Regions from separate parts of the Homo sapiens genome. Here region 2 is linked to region 1. Evidence: fine-mapped expression QTL. Tissue or cell type: esophagus mucosa. Region 1 holds a variant in brackets; the other region holds the start of a gene. All regions are shown on one strand. Distances are between the middles of the regions.

Region 1 (8,100 bases):
AGAACCCCGTTTCTACAAAAATTAGCCGGGACGTGTTGGTGTATGCCTATAGTCCAAGCTACTCAGTGGAGTCCCAGCTGAGGTGAGAGGATCACTTGAGCCCGCGGGGTCAAGGCTGCAGTCAGTGAGCATTGATTGTGCCACTGTACTCCAGCCAGGACAACAGAGCAAGACTTTGTCTCAAACACACACACACAAACACACAAGCAGGGAGTTCCAGAGACGTAACAGTAAACACACAGAACGCACACAAACGCAACACACACAGAAAGAGACACACAAATACAGCGACACACTACAAGGGCAAAACACACAGTCACACACTATCAGGGAAACTAAAAAATACATCATACAGGAACAGAGTGACGCAGGCAGAAAAACACAGCGACCAAAATTCAGTCACACGAATACAGGGTCTCCCACCCAGTGGCACAGGCCACAATTTCACAACCTCCACTCACACTAGCCTGGGGCCCAGTGCACCACACTCCACACTCTTGTCTCACTGCATACAAAGCTTTTTCCTGCCAAAACCCCCTCATCCACCCAAAACCCCATGAGAAAGTTGCTCCTTGGCCAGGCACAGTGGCTTTCGCCTGTAATCCCAGCACTTTGGGAGGCCGAGGTGGGAGTATCACTTGAGCCCAGGAGTTCGACACCAGCTTGGGCAACATACTAAGACTTCATCTCTACAAAAAAATTTAAAAATTAGCCAGGTGTGGTGTTATGCCCCTATAGTCCCAGCTACTCAAGAGACTGAGGCGGGAGGATCACTTGAGCCTGGGAGGCCGAGGCTGCAGTGAGCCATGATCGCACCCCTGCTCTCCAGCCTGGGTGACAAGAGAGAAACTCCGTCTCAAAAAAAAAAAAAAAAAAAAAAGTTGATCCTATTCACTCATTTTACTAAGGCAGAGCCTGAGGACAGGAGAGAGAATCCACAAGAGGCAAACAGACTCTTACAGAGGGGCACACATGTCATTAAACTGTAATAACACTCCTCACCTGCCTCTGTGACCTTATTAATCCCCACTTCCTTTAGTCCTAATTTACAGATGAGAAAACTGAAGCTCAAAAGAAATGCTTCGTATCGAAGCAGGCGCAAAGGTTTCCATGCTCCCACACAAACATCCATGCACAAATAGTCCCCATGCAAGTCCAGATGAGAAAGCCAAGGCCTGGGGAGGGGAATGGATCTCTTTTGCACAAGGCAGGGATGCGGACATCCCAGAGAGCTTCAGTCACACACAGAGAATCAAGGCAGGCAAACATAGACAGGAAGTCGCTGGCTCACCCATGCTGGAGGTGGGGAGCCCAAATACAGGGAGACAGGGTTACACATGCTCTGAGGGGGAGGCCAACCCCATCCGCCCAGCTTGCCCGGCAGCAGGACTGAAGTATGGAAACTTGCAGTGGCCCGGCCAGGAGGGGGTGGCCAGGGGATTCCAGCCACCTTCACCCCGTATCCCAGGTCCTGCACCCAGCTGGGGAGCCCCCAGCTTCCCCCTCCCCAGAGGCCTCCAGGAAAAGTTCGGAGAACTCCCTGCAAGGAGTGGTGCGCCTTTTTAGACCGGGAAAGTGGCCGCCAGGGCGACCCCCTCCGGGTCAGGCCCAGCCCAGCGCCCCCAAAGGTCCAGTGCAGTCCACTCACTCTGCGCCCTGGTCGTGCGCCACCCGCAGTCGCGCTGCCTTGAACCGAGTGAGCGGACGCCGCTCCGGGGGCGGGGCTGGAGCTGGCAGGCGAGGGGGCGGGCCAGCGACGCAAAGGGCCGGCGGTCGCCAGCAGTTGCCCCCTCCCCTTGGGTCCCGGGCACTCAGCCCATGGCTGCCAGCCTGTGCCACTCGCCGCGGCACCGGAGCGCGCCCCGGCGGCGACTGGCACAGGCGAGCCCTCAGCTGCCCCCTCCGGGCCTGGGCTGTCCTCCCAGGGACGCTCCATCGCGGTGGGAGGACTCGGAGAGGCGGGAAAGGGAGGGTTCTGCAGCAGGGCGGTCGCAGCCTGAGCCTCTTCTCCCCAGCGGAGGGGTCTCCTCTGTCCTGGGTGTCCGGGCACTGCGCCCTCCCATTGCCCACCCACCTGTGAACTGAGCTTCCTGGGCTGCACCCCAAGGACGCCCCGTCGATGATTCGGAGGGGTCTTCAGTGGGTTGCTTAGCAGGAGTCTTCAGTGGGGGCCACCTTAGCCTGAGTCCTCTCCCACCAGCAGATAGGTTCCCGCTGCTCCCGGGCACAGGCCCCTCCCAATTTCCCGCTCCCGCCCCCGGCTCAGGGCGAGTGGGGGTGGGGCGGGCCCGGGCAGGATTGTGATGGGAACTTGCCGCTCCTCAGATAAGGAGGGTCTCTCCTGTCCCACCCCCTGGATTCCGTGTTCCCCCGACCGATTCTCTCCCACCCTTATCGCTGACGACAAAGTGATTTACTCATTAATGGTGTTTCTGGGCTGTGTCCTTAGCAGACAGTAAACCCCAGCAATGTAAGAATTTCTTTTTTTTTTTTTTTTTTGAGACAAGATCTTGCTCTGTGGCCCAGAGTGGAGTGCAGTGGCAACATCATAAGTCACTGCAGTCTCGACCTCCGCGGCTCAAGCCATCCTCCCATCTCAGCCGGCTGAACGTAGCTGCTGGGACTCCAGTCGCTTGCAACCATGCCCAGATAATGAATGAGTGTCTCCCTCACTTCCTCTGTATCTCTCTCAGGAGGATCTCAGAGTCTCTCGCCTGCGTGTCTCTTTGTCTCTGCGTGTCTCTTTGCCTCTGCGTGTCTCTTTGTTGCTGTCTGTGATGCTCTCCCACGCCTCTCCCAGGCCACTGCTCCTCCAACGACCAGTCCCGCTGGCCCCGAAACGCCCCCACCCCGACTTCCCAGGAACTTCCAGACGGTCCCAGCTCTTCCACCCTCAGATTCAGGAAGGGAGGCTGGGTCCCGCTGCTGCGACCTTCTCCAGGACCGTGCCCTTTGCCCCTGATGCTTCAGGCCCTGCTGGCCGCGGGTGGGGTGAGGGCGCCCCAGGAGAGATGAGCCAGAGGCTGAGAATAAGTGTGGATCCGGGATACCCTCGTGGGAGGAAACTCAGGGGGCACTCAGGCCGGGTCAGGCCCCCATGTAGCCCCTTGGGGATCCCAGCCCTCCTGCCCCCGCTGTTCCCTCGGTGGGCAGAACCTTTCCTGCCTGCTCTGCTCAAAGACACAGCCAATGGGACCCGCAGGGTGGGACGGTGTTAACCCTTCAGTGCCAGGTTCCCCAGTCCTGTGGACCAAGCCAACTCCAATGGTGCCCACTGGGATGACCCCTGAAGATCTCCCAGCATGGCTGTGGCTGGCACCCAGTAGGTGCTCAATAAATGACCTCCTTCTGTAAAGGGGAAGCCGCGCCCCAGGGTGGGGAGGTGGCTGCTTCACACCTCCCAGGCGCCAATCTCACTTCTCTCGAAAATGGGGCTCTTCCGGCTGCGGGTCCCGGGCTCAGCAACCTGCCTCTCCAGCTGCCTCCCTGAACTTCTTTCCCACGAATTGGGACCCTGGGGACTCAGGCTCCAGGATCTCGACAGATGTTGGGAGTCCCATCCCTAGCTGCCACTCCACACTCCTGGCCACAGTTCTTAAAACTCAGATCACATTTCTTTTCTGCTCCAAACCCTCCCGTGGCTCCCTGTGTTTCTCAGAGTAAGTGATCAAGTCCTCAGTGAGGACCCCGCAAGGACAAGGCCATATGCCGTCCTGATTTGTCTCTTTCTGTTACTTCTGTGCCTCTCTCTGCTCCACTCTGCTTCTGCCTCCCGGGCTCCTCCGAGTTCCACACACACTTCAAGACTTTTGAACTTGGGGGCCAGGTGGCCTGGAGCACCCTTCTCCCCACCCCTTCCCAGCTGGTCAGCTGGTCACCTCCTCAGAGAGACCTTCCCTGATCTGTCCCTCATCTCAAATGGCAGTTGGCATTATCTGAAATCACCTTGCTTTTGCTTTTTTTTTTTTTTTGTAATCTCCCTTTATTGCCCAGGCTGGAGTGCAGTGGTGCGATTTGGGCTCACTGCAAACTTCGCCTCTGCAACCTCCGCCTCCTGGCTTCAAGCAATTCTCCTGCCTCAGCCTCCAGAGTAGCTGGGATTACAGGAATGCACCACCCCGCCCAGCTAATTTTTGTATTTTTAGTAGAGGCGGGGTTTCACCATGTTGGCCAGGCTGGTCTCCAACTCCTGACTTCAGATGAATCGCCCGCCTCCCCCTCCCAAAGTGCTGGGATTACAGGCGTGAGCCACCGTGCCCGGCCACCTTGTTCATTTCATTTATTTATTCATCTTTCCTAATGTGTATCTCTGACCTAGAGCCTCAGCTCCAGGAAGGCAGGTCTGTCCCTCTGCCCAGATTCCTAAAGGTTAAGGGCTCACAGTTTTTTGATTTTTCTTTCTTTTGTGAGACAGCGCCTCACTCTGTCATCCAGGCTGGGGCACAGTGCCGTGATCACAGCTCCCTGCAGCCTCGACTTTCCAGGCTTCAAGCAATCCTCTGCCCAACCTCCAGAGTAGCTGGGACCGTAGGTGCCAGCCACTGCACCTGGCTACTTTTTAAAATTTTTTGTAGAGACAGGGTCTCGCCAGGTTACCTAAGCTGGCCTTGAACTCCTGGACTCAAGCAATTCTTCTGCCTCAGCCTCCCAAAGTGCTGGGATTACAGGAGTGAGACAGGACTCAAGGTCTTGAGGCAGGCAAGTGATACCCACTGTGAGCCTCAGTGGACTTATCTGTAAAATTGAGATAATAGCCAGGTGCAGTGGCTCATGCCTGTAATCCCAGCACTTTGAGAGGCCGAGGTGGGCAGATCACCTGAAGTCAGGAGTTCAAGACCAGACTGGCCAACATGGTGAAACCCCATCTCCACTAAAAATATAAAACTTAGCCGGGCGTGGTGGCGCGCACCTGTAGTCCCAGCTACTCCGGAGGCTGAGGCAGGAGAATC[A/G]CCTGAACCTGGCAGGCGGAAGTTGTAGTGAGTCAAGATCGCGCCACTACACTCCAGCCTGAGCAATGCAGTGAGACTCCATCTCAAAAAAAAAATAAAAATAAAATTGAGATAACCGCACCCACTCCAAGGCTGTTGTTGAAGATGAAATGAACAGTTGGAACAGAGCCAAGGTATACAATGAGAGCTCCACAAATGTCAGTGCAGCTATTATTGGTCACCACTGTATCCCCAAAGAAGAATTAGGGCAATGGGCTCATAAGGAATCAGCCCCAGACATTGCCACCACCCGCCCCCACCCCATACCTCCTCCCACACCCCACAGGCCAAACTGTCTCTTCCCGGGTTCAGGGCACCCCTGGCCTCTATGTTCCTGCTGTGTCTTGCAGCAGCCCTCCCGCCTGAAGCATGCCTAGGCCAGCACACCCGCTGGGCCAGTTCTGCTGCCAGCACCCTCGCCCACAGAGGCAGCTCCACCCAGCGCCCGCTCTTGCAGAGCTGGGTCTGCACCTTCGAGAGGGCAAACTGCCTCCCATGGTACCCTCAGATCCCCTTCACCCACTCCCATTCCCACCCTCCTCACTCCCCCTGCCCTTTTTTTTTTTTTTTTTTTTTTTGAGACGGAGTCTTACTCTGTCACCTGGGCTGGAGTGCAATGGCACTATCTGGGCTCACTGCAACCTCCACCTCCTGGGTTCAAGCAATTCTCCTGCCTCAGCCTCCTGAGTAGTTGGGATTACAGGCACGCGCCACCACACCCGGATAATTTTTGTATTTTTAGTAGAGACATGGTTTCACCATATGGGTCAGGCTTGTCTCGAACTCCTGACCTTGTGTTCCACCTGCCTTGGCCTCACAAAGTGCTAGGATTATAGGCGTGAGCCACCCTGCCCGGTCTTTTTTTTTTTTTTTTTCTTGAGATAGGGTCTGGCTCTGCCACCCAGGCTGGAGTGCAGTGCGCAGTGATCTTGGCTCAGTGCAACCTCCACCCCGAGTTCAAGGGATCCTGCCACTACAGCCTCCCAAGTAGCATGCGCCACCATGCCCAGCTACTTTTTTTGTATTTTTGTAGAGACAGAGTTTCGCCATGTTGCCCAGACTGGTCTCAAACTACTGGGCTCAAGTGATCCTGCTGCCTCGACCTCCCAAAGGGCTGGGATTACAGGCATGAGCCACTGCACCCGGCCCACATTCCCTTTTTCACAGCCCTGAAACTTAAATGTGGCTGCAGGGAGGTGTGAACTGACAACTTTCCCACAGCCAGAGAACAGAGAGGCAGGGTTTGGGGGTCTCAAACGGGAGGCCCGAGGGCCAACTCCAACTCACATGCACAAGGCTTGTTTGTGCAGCTCAGTGAGGTTTCACACTCAAACAGCTATCCGAACTGGACAGAAATGCTGCACTCTAGCCAGTAAATTTGTTTCTCTTAGAAGTACAAGGCAACAGGCTGGGCGCAGTGGCTCACACCTCTAATCCCAGCACTTTAGGAGGCCGAGGGGGGTGGATCACCTGAGATCAGGAGTTCGAGACAAGCCTGACTAACATGGTGAAATCCCAATCTCTACTAAAAATACAAAAATTAGCCGGGCATGGTGGTGCACGCCTGTAATCCCAGCTACTCCGAAGACTGAGGCAGGAGAATTGCTTGAACCGGGGAGGCAGAGGTTGCAGTGAGCCGAGATCGCGCCACTGCACTCCAGCCTGGGTGACAGAGCGAGACTCCGTCTCAAAAAACAAAAAGAAAAAGAAGTACAAGGCAACAATTCTGAAAATGCTTTCATGCTAACATTGAACAAATAAGTACACGTGTTGTAGATATGAATAACCAGGTTTCATACTGTTGGGGAAAAAAAATGACAAATAAGCCAGGTACTGCTGCATTGAGGTTATCAGTATGAGCTCAAGTTTATTTTAATAAATGGATAAGAAAATAAATATAGATATGTGACCAGGTGCTGTGGCTCACACCCATAATCTCAGCACTTTGGGAGGCCAAGGCGGGTGGATCATGAGGTCAGGAGATCGAGACCATCCTGGCCAACATGGTGAAATGCCATCTCTACTAAAAATACAAAAATTAGCTGGGCTTGGTGGCACGTGCCTGTAATCCCAGCTACTCGGAAGCTGAGGCAGGAGAATCGTTTGAACCAGGGAGTCAGAGGTTGCAGTGAGCCGAGATCATGCCACTGTACTCCAGCCTGGCAACAGAGCGAGACTCTGTCTCAAAAAAAAAAAAAAAAGCTGGACGCTATGGCTCACGCCCACAATTCCAGCACTTTGGGAGGTCAAGGTGGGTGGATCACGAGGTCAGGAGTTCGAGACAAGCCTGACCAACAAGGTGAAACCCCGTCTCTACTAAAAATAGAAAAAAATTAGCCAGGCATGGGGGTGCATGCCTGTAATCCCAGCTACTCAGGAGGTTGAGGCAGGAGAATCGCTTGAACCTAGGAGGCAGAGGTTGCAGTAAGCTGAGATCATGCCACTGACTCCAGCCTGGGCAACAGGGTAAGACTCCGTCTCAAAAAAAAAAAAATTTTTTTTTAATTAGAATGTGGTGAAGGTTGCACCACTCTGTAAAATACACTAAAAACCACAGTTGTATATTTCAAGTGTGTGAATTTGATGACATCTGAATTATACCTCAATAAAGCTGTTAAAAATTATATTTGACATTTATCAAGTGGTTAGTTCAAAGCGGGGCAATGTGCTGAACTTTCTACACCATGTTACATTCCCACCCAGAACATCATGTGAGAAGGAAAGGGACTTTTATGTCTCCACTTTATAGGTGTCCCAGATTGAGATCTGAGAGGTTAAGCAAGCTGTCCACAGTCACACAGAAATGGGGTGAACAAACTACAGAGGTCTGGCATTGGAGGCCTGGCAACCCTGGGCTTCCCCTCCGGTCCCCTGCTCCTTACTTGTTCTAAGCTGAGCTCATGGCATACTGCAATGATTTTAGTTTCTGCCACACACACATTCTTTCCAGCCTCCAGGTACCTGGATTTGCTGGTTCAATCCTTCTGCCTGGCTGTTTTCCCTTTTCTTTTTCTTTTTTTTTTTTTTTTTTTGAGGGAGTTTCGCTCTTGCCCAGACTGGAGTGGTGCAATGGCGCAATCTTGGCTCACCGCAACCTCCCTCTGCCTCCCAG
Region 2 (8,100 bases), 25 kb after region 1:
GAATCGCTTGAACCCGGGAGGCAGAGGTTGTGGTGAGCCGAGATTGCCATTGCACTCCAGCCTGGGCAAAAACTCCATCTAAAACAAAAAAACAAAACAAAACAAAAAATAGAAGAGAATCCCACCAAGAACCATGCTGGCACCCTGATCTGGGACTTTCTAGCCTCTAGAACTGTGAGAAGCAAAGGTGTGTTGTTTTAGCCCCCAAGGCTATGGTATTTGTCACAGCAGCCCAAGGGGATAAAGACAGTAAGGTTGTGATAACTACTCCCATGCGGCGGGGAGGGGGAAAAAGGCAGGGAAGAGAAGGAGACCAAGGATGGAGATGGGGGAGAATTTTGAGAGTGGTAATCTTCGTGTAGGGGTGATATTTGAATAAAGACTTGCGGCCGGGCACAGTGTCTCACGTCTGTAATCCCAGTACTTTGGGAGGCTGAGGTGGGTGGATTACTTGAGGTCAGGAGTTCGAGACCAGCCTGGCCAACATGGTGAAACCCCATTTCTACTAAAAATATAAAAATTAGCTGGGTGTGGTGGCACATGCCTGTAATCCCAGCTACTCAGGAGGCAGGAGGATCACTGGTGCCCAGAAGGTCGTGGTTGCAGTGAGTTATGATCGTGCCACTGCACTCCAGCCTGGGCAACAAAGTGAGACCCTGCCAAAAAAAAAAAAAAAGACCTGAAGGAGGTGACGGAGAGCCATGGTAAGAAACGTGGTCTGGGCAGAGGGAACAGCAAGTGCAAAGACTCTGAGGTGGCATTGGCTCTGTTGAGTTTGAGAAAGGGTGCACTTGGCTGGTTGCAGTGGCTCAAGCCTGTAATCCCAGCACTTTGGGAGGCCCAGGCGGGCAGATCACCTGAGGTCAGGAGTTCAAGACCAGCCTGGTCAACATGGTGAAACTCTGTCTCTACTAAAAATATAAAATTAGCCGGGTGTGGTGGCTCACACCTGTAATCCCAGCTACTCCAGAGGCTGAGGCAGGAGAATTGCTTGAACCTGGGAGGCGGAGGTTGCAGTGAGCTGAGATTGTGCCAGTGCACTCCAGCCTGGGCTACAGAGCAAGACTCTGTCTCAAAAAAATAAAATAAAATAAATCAATAAATTAATAAATTAATGAAAGAGAAAGGGGTCAATTGTGATTGAAGGCGACTGGGAGGAGAGGGGAAAAAAGGAAAGTCAGGGAGGTGACTGCCCCTTTTGTGCCTTCTCCTTCTTGGATCACACCCTCATTCAAATCTTTCTTACCTCCTTCAGAGAGCTGAGGACAGAGCCCCGGGGCTGGCCACTAGAGGCCACCCTCTCCATGGCTCACAGGGTCACTGCATTGTCATCATGCAGTTGGCTCTCACTGAGCCCCAACTGTTCCTCAAATACCACTCTAAGCACTTTACATTGGTAAGTTCAGCTCATTCCCATACATCTTTATGAGTTAGACACATTTAAAACTTTTTCCTGGCTGGGTGCAATCGCTCATGCCTGTAATCCCAGCACTTTGGGAGGCCGAGGCTGGCGGATCACCTCAGTCAGGAGTTCGAGACCAGCCTGGCCAACGTGGTGGAATCCTATCTCTACTAAAAATACAAAAATTAGCTGGGCGTGGTGGTGTGCGCCCGTAATCCCAGCTACTCAGGAGGCTGAGGCAGCAGAATTGCTTGAACCTGAGAGGTGGTGGTTGCAGTGAGCCAAGATCGCACTAGTGCACTCCAGCCTGGGCAACAAGAGCGAAACTCCATCTCAAAATAAATACATAAATAAATGAAAATAAAATAAAAAATAAAAATTGTCCCTGGCCAGGTGCAGTGGCTCATGTCTGTCATCCTAGAACTTTGGGAGGCTGAGGCTAATCGTTTCAGCCCAGGAGTTCAAGACTAGCCTGAGCAACACTGGGAGACTCTATCTCTACAGAAAAATTTTTAAAAATTAGCCAGGGGTGGCCAGGCACGGTGGCCCACGCCTGTAATCCCAGCACTTTGGGAGGCCGAGGTGGGCGGATCACGAGGTCAGGAGATCGAGACCATCCTGGCTAACACGATGAAACCTCGTCTCTACTAAAAATACAAAAAATCAGCCAGGCGTGGTGGCGGGCGCCTGTAGTCCCAGCTACTCGGGAGGCTGAGGCAAGAGAATGGTGTGAACCTGGGAGACAGAGCTTGCAGTGAGTCGAGATCGCGCCATTGCACTCCAACCTGGGCAACAGAACGAGACTCCGTCTCAAAAAAAAAAAAAAAAATTAGCCAGGGGTGGTGGCATGTGCCTATAGTCCTAGCTACTCAGGTGGCTGAGGCAGGAGACTTGCTTAAGCCTCGGCAGTTGAGACTGCAGTGAGCCATGATCAGGCCACTGCACTGTAGTCTGGATGACAGAGCAAGACCCTGTCTCAACAACAACAACCAAAATCTGTTTGGGCCTCGCAAGGTTAGAGAAAAAAAATTAAAAAATAAAATAAAATAAAATATTTTCCTGTAGTCTCAGCTACTTGGGAGGCTGAGGCAGGAGGATCACTTGAGCTAAGGAGTTTCAGGCCAGCCTGGGCAACATAGAGAGAACTTGTCTCTATAAAAAGTTAACTGATTACTTTTTAAAACAAAGAGGTTTTTTTTCAGCCTTATTGAGGTATAATAGACATATACAAAACCATGCAAATTTTAAGCGTACAATCTGATGAGTTTTCACACCTGTGAAGCCACTATTACAGTTAAGATACTGAATTTATCCACAGCTCCAAAAAATGTCTTCCTGCCTGAGGTGGTGGCTCACGCCTGTAATCCCAGCATTTGGGAGGCTGAGGCGGGAGGATCTCATGAAGCCAGGAGTTTGAGACCAGCCTAGACAACATAGCGAGACCCCTTATCTACAAATAAAATTTAAAAAATTAACCAGGCATGGTGGCTCCTGTCTGCGGTCTCAGCTACTCTGGAGGCTGAGGTTGGAGGATCAGAGTTGGAGGCTGCAGTGAGCTATGAAAGCGCCACTGCACTCCAGTCTGGACAACAGAGCCAGATGCTGTCTCGACAAAACAAACACTGAAAAAAACTTTCCTGGAGCACTTCATTCATCCCTCCCTCCCGCGCCTGCCTACCCCTGGATTTTTTTTCCCTGAGCATAATTCTCATGAAGATTCGTCTATGTTGTTGCGTGTATTCCAGCCCTATTTTGCACATGAGGAAACTGAGGCACAGAGAGGCGTGGCTTGCCCCGGAGGTCACACTAGTCGATTTGGTCCCAGGCCAGGGCGGGTTCTGGGTCGGCAGCCCGCGCAGGTGCACTCGGGAGGCGGGGCGGGCGCTGCAGGTGCGCAGTCAGTCTCACCTGGGCGCCTGCCAGGAGGTCAGTCCTGGGCCCTGGGGGGCAGGACTAGGGGCGGGGCCAGGGGCAGGGGTTCCCCAGCTCTGCTGCCTCCGATAAGGGCCTGAAGGGGCTGTCGCGCTCCTGGCGGTGTGATAAGGAGGGCGGGGGGAGGCCGCGGGAAGGCGTCGGGGTTTGAGGTCCCCGCCTGGCGACCCGGGATCGGGGCAGGAAAGGCGGCTGGGCGGGGAGAGGGCGGGGCGGGGCGTCTGGCTTGGCCACGCCCACCGTCATCCGGGGTCCTGGCCCGCTAAGATGGCGATGGCTGCGGTAGCAGCGGCGGCGGCTGTTGCCTGGCCCGGTACCCTGGGGACGGGGGCCGAGTAGCGCCTTCCCCGGGCCCCGTGAACCGGCTGCGGGTCGCCCTTGGGGGGCAGCGGCCGCAGCCCCCCACCTGGGCCCTCGGTCCGCCCTCCCGGCGCGTCCATGAACTCAGTGTCGCCGGCCGCCGCGCAGTACCGGAGCAGCAGCCCGGAGGACGCGCGCCGCCGGCCCGAGGCCCGCAGGCCGCGGGGTCCCAGAGGCCCAGACCCCAACGGCCTGGGGCCTTCCGGAGCCAGCGGCCCCGCTCTTGGCTCTCCCGGGGCTGGCCCGAGTGAGCCGGACGAAGTGGACAAGTTCAAGGCCAAGTTCCTGACAGCCTGGAACAACGTCAAGTACGGTGAGGAGGGGGCCCGGAGATCGTGGGGGTGTCGGGGGCCGTTGAGGAAAACCAGACCCCGGTCCTGCCAGTTATCCCACCCTTGTTCCCGTCCTGAGTCACCTGTGGGTCCCCTCCCTGCCCGGCCCAGGGTGGACCTGTGGCAGGTCCAATAGTGTTTTCAAGCCCCGCCCATTCCCCTGTGTGACCTTGGGCAAGATCCTTTGCTTCCTGGCGCCTCCGTTTTTGCCCCTCTCTGTAAAATGGGTACAATAATCAGAACTACCTTCCTTCATCCTGAATTGATGGTGGACACTCCTGTAGCTGTCACTGGGGGCCCCACCTCCGACGGAATCCCCGGAGCCACCCCGGAGATAGGAACTAGGATCGTGCCCATTTCACAGATGGGGGAATGGAAGCGCTGTTGCTGTCATGCAAGTGCTTCATCTCGCTGGGCGCTGCCCCTACGTCTCCCCAGGTTGGGTGGTTAAAAGCCGGACCAGCTTTAGCAAGATCTCCAGCATCCACCTCTGTGGCCGCCGCTACCGTTTCGAGGGCGAGGGTGAGCTGGTGGTTGGGACCAGGGCTGGGGGAGGCCTCTCCACGCCCGCCGGAGTGTCCCTGGTGGCAGCTGACAGACCCGCTCTTGTAGGTGACATACAGCGTTTCCAGCGGGACTTTGTGTCCCGCCTGTGGCTCACATACCGCCGGGACTTCCCGCCCCTTCCTGGGGGCTGCCTGACCTCGGACTGTGGCTGGGGGTGCATGTTACGCAGCGGCCAGATGATGCTGGCACAGGGCCTTCTGCTGCATTTCCTGCCCAGAGGTGAGCCATAGGGGGGAAGGGGTGCACTAGGAGTACAGGGTCAACTGCCATATCAGCAGTATTAGAATTACTTACCAACTAAGAGTTCAAAGTCACGTTAGAATTGTGTGTCAAGTAAGTTTTGGAGAGATGAGAGTTGTTTATAAGAGTTTCAGCCGGGGTTGGAAACGGTGGCTCATGCCTGTAATCCTAGCACTTTGGGAGGCTGAGGCGGATGGATCCCTTGCGGTCAGGAGTTCAAGACCAGCCTGGCCAATATGATGAAACCCCATCTCTACTAAAAATACAAAAATTAGCCGGTTGTGGTGGCACACGCCTGTAATCCCAGCTACTCCCGAGGCTGAGGTGGGAGAATCTCTTGAACCCAGGAGGCGGAGGTTACAGCAAGCCAAGATCGCACCACTGCACTCCAGCCTGGGCAACAGAGGGAGACTCTGTGTCAAAAATAAAAATAAAAAAAAGTTTCACCAGGCACGGTGGCTCATGCCTGTAATCCCAGCACTTTGGGAGGCTGAGGCTGGTGGATCATGAGGTCAGGAGTTCAAGACCAGCCTGGCCAAGATGGTGAAACCCCATCTCTACTAAAAATACAAAAATTAGCTGGGTGTGGTGGCAGGCACCTGTAATTTGGCAAGGTAAAGCAGAGAATTGCTTGAACCGGGGAGGCGGAGGTTGCAGTGAGCCGAGATCCGTGCCACTGCACTCCAGCCTGGGTGGCAGAGCGAGACTCAGTCTCAAAAAAAAAAAAAGAGTTTTGGCTGGGCACTGTGCTGCATGCTTGTAATCCCAGCTACCTGGGAGGCTGAGGTGGGAAGATTGCTCGTGCCCAGGTGTTCAAGTCTGCAGTGAACTATGATCCTGCCACTGCACTCCAACCCGAGTGACAGAATGAGACTCCAACAATAACAGGTCGAGTGTGGTGGCTCATGCCTGTAATCCCAGCACATTAGGAGGCTGAGGCAGGAGGATCGCTTGAGCATAGGCATTCGACACCAGCCTAGGCCACATGACAAGGCTCCTGTCTCTACAAAAAAATTTTAAAAATTAGCTGAGTGTGGTGGCATGTGCCTGTGATCCCAACTACTCAGGAGGCTGAGGCGGGAGAATCTGTTGAGCTCAGGATTTAGAGGCTGTAGTGAGACGTGATTGTGCCACTGCACTCCAGTCTGGATGACAGTGAGATCCTGTCTTTATTTATTTATTTTATTTATTATTATTATTATTTTTTTTTTTGAGACTGAGTCTTCCTCTATCATCCTGGCTGAAGTGCAGTGGAGAGATCTTGGCTCACTGCAACCTCTGCCTCCCAGGTTCAAGCGATTCTCCTGCCTCAGCCTCCTGAGTAGCTGGGATTACAGGTGCCCGCCACCACGCTTGTCTACTTTTTGTATATTTTTTTTTTTATCAGAGAAGGGGTTTCACCATGTTGGCCAGGCTGGTCTCGAACTCCAGGCCTCAAGTGATCCACCTGCCTTGGTCTCCCAAAGTGCTGAGATTACAGGCATGAGCCACCGCGTCTGGCTGAGATCCTGTCTTTAAGTAACAAAAAATAAATAAATAAATAAGGATAAGTATATGTTTCAGGAATATGTAAATTCTGTTGAATTACGGGGTTCAGGAGCATTCGCATTGTGTGCGGTGCATGTGTAGATGGGACCTCTGCCCCCCACACACTAGCACTGTTTGACTATGTGCTCCATTCCACCAGACTGGACATGGGCCGAGGGCATGGGCCTGGGCCCCCCTGAGCTGTCAGGGTCAGCCTCTCCCAGCCGGTACCATGGGCCTGCCCGCTGGATGCCCCCACGCTGGGCCCAGGGTGCCCCTGAGCTGGAGCAGGAACGCCGGCACCGGCAGATTGTGTCCTGGTTCGCCGACCACCCCCGGGCCCCCTTTGGCCTACACCGGCTGGTGGAGCTTGGGCAGAGCTCAGGCAAGAAGGCAGGTGACTGGTATGGGCCATCGCTAGTGGCACACATCCTCAGGTGAGGGCTGCTGCAGGGATCACGGGAGTTGCTGGGTACCCGCAGGCACTCAGGCCTTCCCTCCTGCCCCCAGGAAAGCCGTGGAGAGCTGCTCCGACGTCACCCGCCTGGTGGTGTACGTTTCTCAGGACTGCACAGGTAAGGGGCTGGGAGCCAAGATCACAGGGGCCCCACCCTGAGCCAGACTCTGCCTTACCCGATTCTTAGAGTGCATCTTCCTCAGAGGCTGGAACAAGTTGTGGGGCAGAGGGACACTGGGGAAGGATGCAAGGCCTGTGCAGTGGGAGATAGTCCCTCTTCTCCGTCTCTCCCTCTGGAACAAGAAACTTCAGGGGCTTCTCCTTGAGTGATAGAATAGAGACATAAGGCCAGGTGTGGTGGCACATACTGTAGTCTCAGCTACTTGGGAGGCTGAGGTGGGAGGATTGCTTGAACCCAGGAGTTCGAGGTTACAGTGAGCTGTCATTATGCCATTGCACTCCAGCCTGGGCGACAGAGTAGGATCCTGTCGAAAAAAAAAAAAAAAAAAAAAAGAGGCCAGGCGCAGTGGCTCACGCCTGTAATCCCAGCACTTTGGGAGGCCAAGGTGGGTGGATCACCTGAGGTCAGGTCACTCTGTCACCCAGGCTTCAGTGCAGAGGCACGATCTCGGCTCACTGCAACCTCTGCCTCCTGGGTTCAAGCGATTCTCCTGCCTCAGCCTCTCAAATAGCTGGGATTACAGGCACGCACCACCATACCAGGCTAATTTTTCTATTTTTAGTAGAGATGGGGTTTCACCATGTTGACAAGGCCGGTCTTGAACTCCTGACCTCAGGTGATTCGCCCACTTTGGCCTCCCAAAGTGCTGGGATTACAAGCTTGAGCCACTGTGCCCAGCCCCTGTAATTTTTTTTTTTTTTTTTTTTTTTTTTTTTTTTTTTTTTTTTTTTTGAGACAGAGTCTCACTCTGTCACCCAGGCTGGAGTGCAGTGGCACAGTCTTGGCTCACTGCAACCTCCGCCTCCTGAGTTCGAGTGATTCTCCTGCCTCAGCCTCCCAATAGCTGGGACTACAGGCGCGTGCCATCACGCCCAGCTAATTTTTTTTGTATTTTTAGTAGAGTTGGGGTTTCACTGTCTTTGCCAGTATGGTCTCTCGATCTCCTGACCTCATGATCCCCCCTCCTCGGCCTCCCAAAGTGCTGGGATTACAAGCTGGAGCCACCGTGCCCGGCTACCTCTGTAAATTTTTTATGCAAAATTGTAGGTGTTTGGGAAAAGATTCGATTTTCAGAGAACCTTATCTCCAAAATGGGTCTAAT

What was found. PIP is the estimated chance that this variant, and not a neighbour inherited with it, causes the effect.
Region 2: it holds the start of ATG4D, and the variant in region 1 is fine-mapped to the expression of ATG4D in esophagus mucosa (GTEx, PIP 0.95).

What each region holds. Positions count from the first base shown.
Region 1 is chr19:10,515,750-10,523,849 of GRCh38, forward strand. S1PR5 (sphingosine-1-phosphate receptor 5) reads right to left here and starts at 1,698. Exons shown (of 2, transcript NM_030760.5): 1 at 1,649-1,698. RefSeq lists enhancers at 1-175, 3,043-3,605. The variant A/G (reference allele first, on the strand shown) is at 4,950.
Region 2 is chr19:10,540,319-10,548,418 of GRCh38, forward strand. It overlaps ATG4D (autophagy related 4D cysteine peptidase), which reads left to right and starts at 3,586. Exons shown (of 10, transcript NM_032885.6): 1 at 3,586-4,007; 2 at 4,465-4,548; 3 at 4,639-4,812; 4 at 6,521-6,797; 5 at 6,871-6,935. The coding sequence starts at 3,773. RefSeq lists silencers at 3,302-3,351, 3,362-3,701, 3,752-3,931 and an enhancer at 3,977-4,572.